2 linked regions of the Homo sapiens genome follow. The protein of the gene in region 1 interacts with the protein of each later gene in a pairwise test. Each region holds a gene or a part of one and is shown on either strand. Other genes may lie near its edges.

Region 1 (2,987 bases):
CTAGGATTACAGATGCCCACCACCACACCCAGCTAATTTTTGTATTTTTAGTAGAGACGGGGTTTTGCCGTGTTGAACAGGCTGGTCTTGAACTCCTGACCTCATAGAACTCTTAAAAGAATGCATGGTATTGCAGTTTGTTCAAAGTGGAGTGATAGGCAAAGGGGAAGAAGGAACTAATATCCTCTAGCAGTGTATTTTGTACCAAAGAACAAGCATCTTCAGGCTTTCATATACTCTGATCAAAATAACATTTTGCTTAAAATTACAATATAATTTAAATTCATGATTATTAGAAACTTAATATTGTCTCAATTGTGATTATTTTCCTTGGAAGAATATATAGTATAATAAAGATTATTTTAAAATTCATTACAGTGGTTTTTATTTAGAGGCTATGGCATATTGTATTGTATTATTAGAGATGAATTCACTGATAAATTTATCACTGATATAACTAAAACCAAATAGTAAATAATATTCCATTTTTATGAATTCATCATATACAAACTTCAAGCATTATCACAGGTATTCATTAAGTGAAATGCATACAACCCCATCAACCTCATCATTATCAACAAATTCAAAGAAATTTTAATGAATTACTAACATAATATATAGGATTAAATTCAGCCTTGCACATTTCACAGACAGCCAAAAACGGATGCCCCTTTTTTCCCATTAAGTGTGATTTCTGTTGATCCCACAGATGGAGGTCACATTTTTATACCATCTGCACCTCCCTCCACTCTACCCCTCTGCCCCCACAGTGCCCAATGCCACCTTTAAGATGCCATGATATTCCCTGAAGACACTACCTCTCAAGCCATGGCCCCAGCTCCATTCTTCCACCCCTTACTCAACCCAGGTCCAGTGAGCTCAGTGCAGCCAACATCTCAGGACACAGGGGCTGATTCCATCACCTATGTAAAGGAATCCACAAAGCAATGGGGACTGACACCCAAAGGCAGTGACCCCAGCCTGCCATGTTTGTGCACACTTGTGCTGCGTCGCTTAGCACATAGGATGTGATTTAATTGCTCAGTTGTCCATCTGGCCTTCTGAAAAGCTGTGAGCTAGTCAAGGGGAGAAATGTGTTCTGTTTGTCCCCATATTACCAGGCCCCACAAAGGACGTACCCTGGCTTCAGAGCATGTGAGCTGAATGAAGAAAAAAAAGTGGAACAGCAGCCAGAGGGCCTGAACGGTGGATAATTGGACCGTCATCGAGATTTCCTGCTTCCCTTTTGTCATTCCTCAAAATATGCGCCTTAAGAATATGCTGAAAGCCTGGTCCTTGGGAGTGTGTGGTGCTTCCCCTCCCTTTGGGGAGCAAAGGAGGACACATAGTTGGGCTGTGCATCATAATACCCAGGATAAAAGGGCTGAGGCCCTGGGTTCCTCAGTCCACAATCACCTCAGGAAGAACCTTCTCCTGCCTCCACCAAACCAGGTGAGCGTCCAGCTGGCGAGAGGACCTGGGCTGAAAGGGCTGCGCAAACACGTCTGTGCTTCAACAAGGAGAGGGGAGGAGGCAGACACGGTGGAGGCGGCAGAGAGGCTGTGGTGGGTGGCCGGCTGGGACTGGGATGGGAGATGGGCGGGATAGTGAGGAAGACAGACAAGTCTGCGAGCCACTTCAGGGGCTCCGCGATGCTGCGACCTCTGAACCCCCTTTTCCTCATGTGCGCAGAGATGCGTTGCCTCCTCACACCCTGCGCTCACAGGCGTCCAGAGAGACGCCACCCTGGAGGGTCATGGGCGTTGTGTTCACGGGACGCCTGCAGGGGGAGCTGTTCGCATCGGGTCCGGAGGTGTGACAGGCCCCGCAGGGCGTGCGCAGGAGCCCCAGAGGCCCACCCAGGAGTGTCAGCTGCCTCCCAGGCAGGGGAGAGGGCCGGAGGAAGGGGCAGTATCAGGCCGGTTTAACTTCAGATCCGTTTGCATTCCCCTTCCCCAGGTCTTAGCTGGAGGGCAGACTGAGTTTAGGGGAAGGGATCCACAATTAAACCAAAGCATGAGGAGGCCCTGGCCTGAAACCTGCATTGACACGTATTTTGCTTTGCTTTTATTTTGCCCAGGCTCCCTGACCTCCTGCCTAGATGTCCTGCCAGCAGAACCAGCAGCAGTGCCAGCCTCCGCCCAAGTGCCCTGCAAAGAGCCCAGCACAGTGTCTGCCTCCAGCTTCCTCCAGCTGTGCCCCAAGCTCTGGGGGCTGTGGGCCCAGCTCCGAGCGCAGCTGCTGCCTGAGTCACCACAGATGCCGCAGGTCTCACCGTTGCCGTTGCCAGAGCTCCAACTCCTGTGACAGGGGAAGTGGTCAGCAAGGCGGGAGCTCCAGCTGTGGCCACAGTTCTGCGGGCTGCTGCTGACCTGAGCCACGAGATTAAGTAAAAATATTTGAGAAAAGAAAGTGCCAAAATGACTGGAACCAGCCCTAGCCTGGTGCTTCTTTGCTCCTGTCTCCTCTTTCCTACTGAGATGTTCCTTGATGAGTTTCAAGTACTCCCCCAGGGGATTTATCCTGCTGGTCTTAGTGTTTTCCCTCCTTCTTTAATATCCCTGTGCTGTGAAGAATAAAGCTGTGCTTTCTCGTTGCAAGCTCTGTCCAGTGCGTTCCCGTCTTTGCCTTACAGGGGCTGCCCCACATTGGGTACATAGGCCTATCTTAGGAACAGACACAAGTGGGTCATACACCCCTCAACTCACAAAACCCTTTTAGGGGGGTTGTATATTAGTGTGGGAATGAGGTGAGCAGTCTTTCACAAGGTCAAGGACAGAAGCATGAGTTGGAAATAAACACAGAGCTCTGGAAAACAAAGGGAATGAGCTTACTGGGCCCGTTCAGATCCTTCCGAAAACACTTTGGTAGCTCAGCCCTAGATGGCAGAGAAGAAGAGAAGCTCCAGATGGGAGCAGGTCCTTGGTCCTCTGGTTCCTCCAACTCTGATACTCTGTAGTCTTCATGACCCAGGACCACAGCAGCCC
Region 2 (3,757 bases), on another chromosome or scaffold:
GCCTCTAAGTTCACAGCACACCCAGTCATTTACTAAAACTGCATGGTACCACTGTCAGCAATTTATTAGTTCAGGAACCACTTATTGACATTTTGGAGGTAAAACTAGTGAGGGAGAGGAGAGTCAAAAGTGGCTCCTAGGCCAGGTGCAGTGGTTCACACCTGTAATCCCAGCACTTTGGGAGCCAAGGCGGGTGGATCACCTGAGGTCAGGAGTTCGAGACCAGCCTGGCCAACATGGTGAAACCCTGTCTCTACTCAAAATACAAAAATTAGCTGGGTGTGGTGGCAGGCACCTGTAATCCCAGCTACTCAAGAGGCTGAGGCAGGAGAATCGCTTGAACCCGGGAGGTGGAGGTTGCAGTGAGCCAAGATCGCACCATTGCCCTCCAGCCTGGGTGACAAGAATGAAACTCCTAAAATCTCAAAAAAAAAAAAAAAAAAAAGGCTCCAAGTGGTCTAACCCAGGTGACTGACTAGATGCCATTAACCAAGGTGAAAAGATGTATATAGAAAAGCAGATTTGAGGTTAAAATACTGAATTTGGTCATTCAAAATGACATATTGAATAATTTAATTTTTTAGATACCTGCAGGATGTCTAGGAAGAGAAATTCAGTGGGCATTCAGTGGAAATGCATTATCAATTAGACTCAGGAACACAGTCTGGACTAGAACTGAAGGACAGGGAATCACCAGATTTAGAGATGAAACTGTAGGATTGAGTAACCTGCTAGGAGATGGCAGAGCATGTGTGAAGGTGGAGGTGAGATCCTGTTCATGTGGCTGAGAGTGCAGGGAACAAGGAGCCAGCAAACATAAATTCCTCTTTTAAGAAGTTTGGTAGTCAAGGACAGAGAAGAAATAGTTGGTAGATTTTAGAAGAAAGACATAGATATAGCAGTTTGGCTTTGTGCTTAGTTTTTTTCAGGGGTGGAGGGCAGTGCAGGGTCTTGCTCTGTCACCCAGGCTGGAGTGCAGTGGTGCAAACACAGCTCACTGCAACCTTGATCCTCAGGCTCAAGTGATCTTCCTGTCTCATCCTCCCAAGTAGCCAGGACCATATGCGCACGACCATGCCCAGCTAATTCTTTTTTTTCTAGAGACGAGGTCTCACTTTGTTGCCCAGGCTGGTCCTGAACTCCTGGGCTCAAGTGATCCTCCTGCCTTGGCCTCCCAAAGTGCTGGGATTATAGGTGTGAGACACCATGTTTGGCCCCTGCACTTGTTTTATACAAAAGAGAGTTCCATGGTATTTCCTAAGGATCCTTGGTGGGATCTGTAGGTGTCCTGAGGTACTGATGGAGACCTAGTCCTTTTCATAGGCATTGCCTACATTCCCAGGAAAATTACACTCAAACCCAAATTCATAGCAGTATCTCATGGGCTTCTTCCTTGTTCTCCATGTCAGGTGGGACACAGTCTCAGGTAGGATCAGGAACTGCAGCTTAACCAAAGGGAGAATGGTCCAGTACGAGCAGCTCAGCACCCTCGGGGGCTTGCCCTCTGCTGGGTGGCCTGCAGGCTCTTGGACATTACTATGCTGCTTTTACTCCTCTTGTTTTTCACTACAGCCAGCCTTCACCTGCTGCTATCAATCTCTTGCGCAGTGATATTTCACCCCTTGATATACATAGGATCAACTGAGATGCTTTTTAACAAATAGCAATGCCCCAACCCTGTCCTCTCTATTCCATTCCTATTGTCTTAATTCCCACCTTCATTATCTTTCACCTGGACAGCAAAGCAGCCTCTTAACACAGCCTCCAAAACCTCACCTTTCACATCTCAGCTCCACAGAGCCCCTGGGTGATCCATTCAAACAAAATATGATCTTGTCACATCCCTGCTGAAAACCTCTTAATGGTTCTTTATTAGCTTTGATCAGTAAATCTGCTTCTCAGAAGGTGTGCTTCCAGCCTCAGATTCTTGTAGCCTCCTTAAGCTCATTTTCATAATATGGAAAGTTTGTCATCCTGAGCTACTCTGGACGGCCCGTAGCAAAGGGCATCTGCAGATATGTGGATTTCTTGCCATGCTAAGGTGATTTCTAAAAAACCTTAACATGAAAAGAAGAAGCAACATTTTGTATTTATTTTTTTCAGGGACTAGGTTTACTTTTTTTGCAGTGATAGATTTTTGTTCCTTTTTACTTTTTTTAAAAAATAACTTTAGTAGAGTACTATTCACATACAATAAATAGACATATTTAAAGCATGTAGTTTGACAAGTTCTGATGTGTATACCCATGAAGCCATCACAATAATCAAGATAATGAACATTTTTCTCACTGTAAGTTTTCCCCTGCCCCTTATATTTAGTTTTTGAAAAAATAAGAATATAATCATAACTCACTGAGAAAAACGTAACCTACAATCTTAGTAGAGCTTGTGAAACTTATTTATATATGCATTATTCAGTCTCTTAGTGAAGGACCATTTTATTTTATTTTATTTTATTTCCTTTTTGAGACAGAGTCTCACTCTGTAGCTCAGGCTGGAGTGCAGTGGCGCAATCTCAGCTCCCCTGCAACCTCTGCCTCCCAGGTTCAAGCAAGTCTCGTGCCTCAGCCTCCCAAGTAGCTGGGACCACAGGCATATACCACCACACCCAACTGATTTTTGTACTTTTAGTAGAGATGGGGTTTCGCCGTGTTGGCCAGGCTGATCTTGAACTCCTGACCTCAGGTGATCCACCTGCCTCGGCCTCCCAAAGTGCTGGGATTACAAACGTGAGCCACCACGCCCAACCATATTTACTTTTATTTTAGACAGTTCTAAGAAGCTGCGCTATTTATTTTGCCAGTGCTTAGCACATACAGAAGAGAAAAAATATATATGCTCTAGAAGAAAAAAGCATAGGCAAAAATGTGAAAACCACAGCAGTGTGGCCCTACTTTGTAAGCAGACAAATCATCCCGTCTGTGGTGCTGTACAAGAATGATGTGTGCAAGATCCTCCAGCTCTTGGCATGGCTCATAGGCCATTACCCTCTGACCTCAGCCCCCTCGAGTTTCTGCTCCTGCCAAAGGGAATTATTGACAATTCCCAAACTGTCACTCCTGAACACCCTTCTGACTTTGCGCATGCTGTTTCCTCTGCCTGATATCTTCTTCCCCGCCTTTTCTTCCTGTCTGATCCTTACTGGTTCTTCGAGATTCATGGAGGGTTTACTTCCTCCATGAAGCCTTTCCTGGCACCTTTCTCCATTTGAACTAAAAAATCCTTTTTCCTTTTTCTTCTTCCTCAATTCCTAGCATATGGTAAGGGTCATTAAATATTTGCCAAGTAAATAATTGAATGAGTCTTTATAATAATCATAATTTGGGGCTAGTCCACAAACCTAAAATAAACATAGCTCATTTTACTTATATTTATTAATTGTTTGATTATTCATTTCTTTGATTTTTCATTGTCCTCGGCTTAAATTTAAATCAAGTTGGTTCTCCCCGATATTGAACACATCTGATTCACTTCCCTTTAATTTTGGTTGGCGTATGCTCTGAGAATACAAAATAATTTAACACAAGCCTAAGCAAAATATAGCTAGAAAGTTAATCACTGGAAAAAGAAACATACTAAATTCCAAAATCAAGCATTGAACAAGTTTTCGATAAGCCACTAGTTTTGATTCCATTATACCCTTGTTACTTTCTTTCAGTACATGAATTCGGTGCTCGGAACTAGCATTGTCTAGTCACAGCAAACCCCAAATCAAGAGCCAACATTTGTCCTGGTTTCTGTTCTGCAATGTGTTACC

The links.
Region 2: the proteins of LCE3A (region 1) and OIT3 interact in binary tests that used the Homo sapiens proteins (3 or more experiments, as listed by UniProt).

Annotation. Positions count from the first base shown.
Region 1 is NC_000001.11:152,622,218-152,625,204, reverse strand, and holds LCE3A (late cornified envelope protein 3A), read left to right. Parts: upstream 1-2,101; coding exon 2,102-2,371; downstream 2,372-2,987. UniProt on the Homo sapiens protein: A structural component of the cornified envelope of the stratum corneum involved in innate cutaneous host defense.
Region 2 is NC_000010.11:72,924,691-72,928,447, forward strand, and holds part of OIT3 (oncoprotein-induced transcript 3 protein precursor), read left to right. Parts: intron 1-3,757.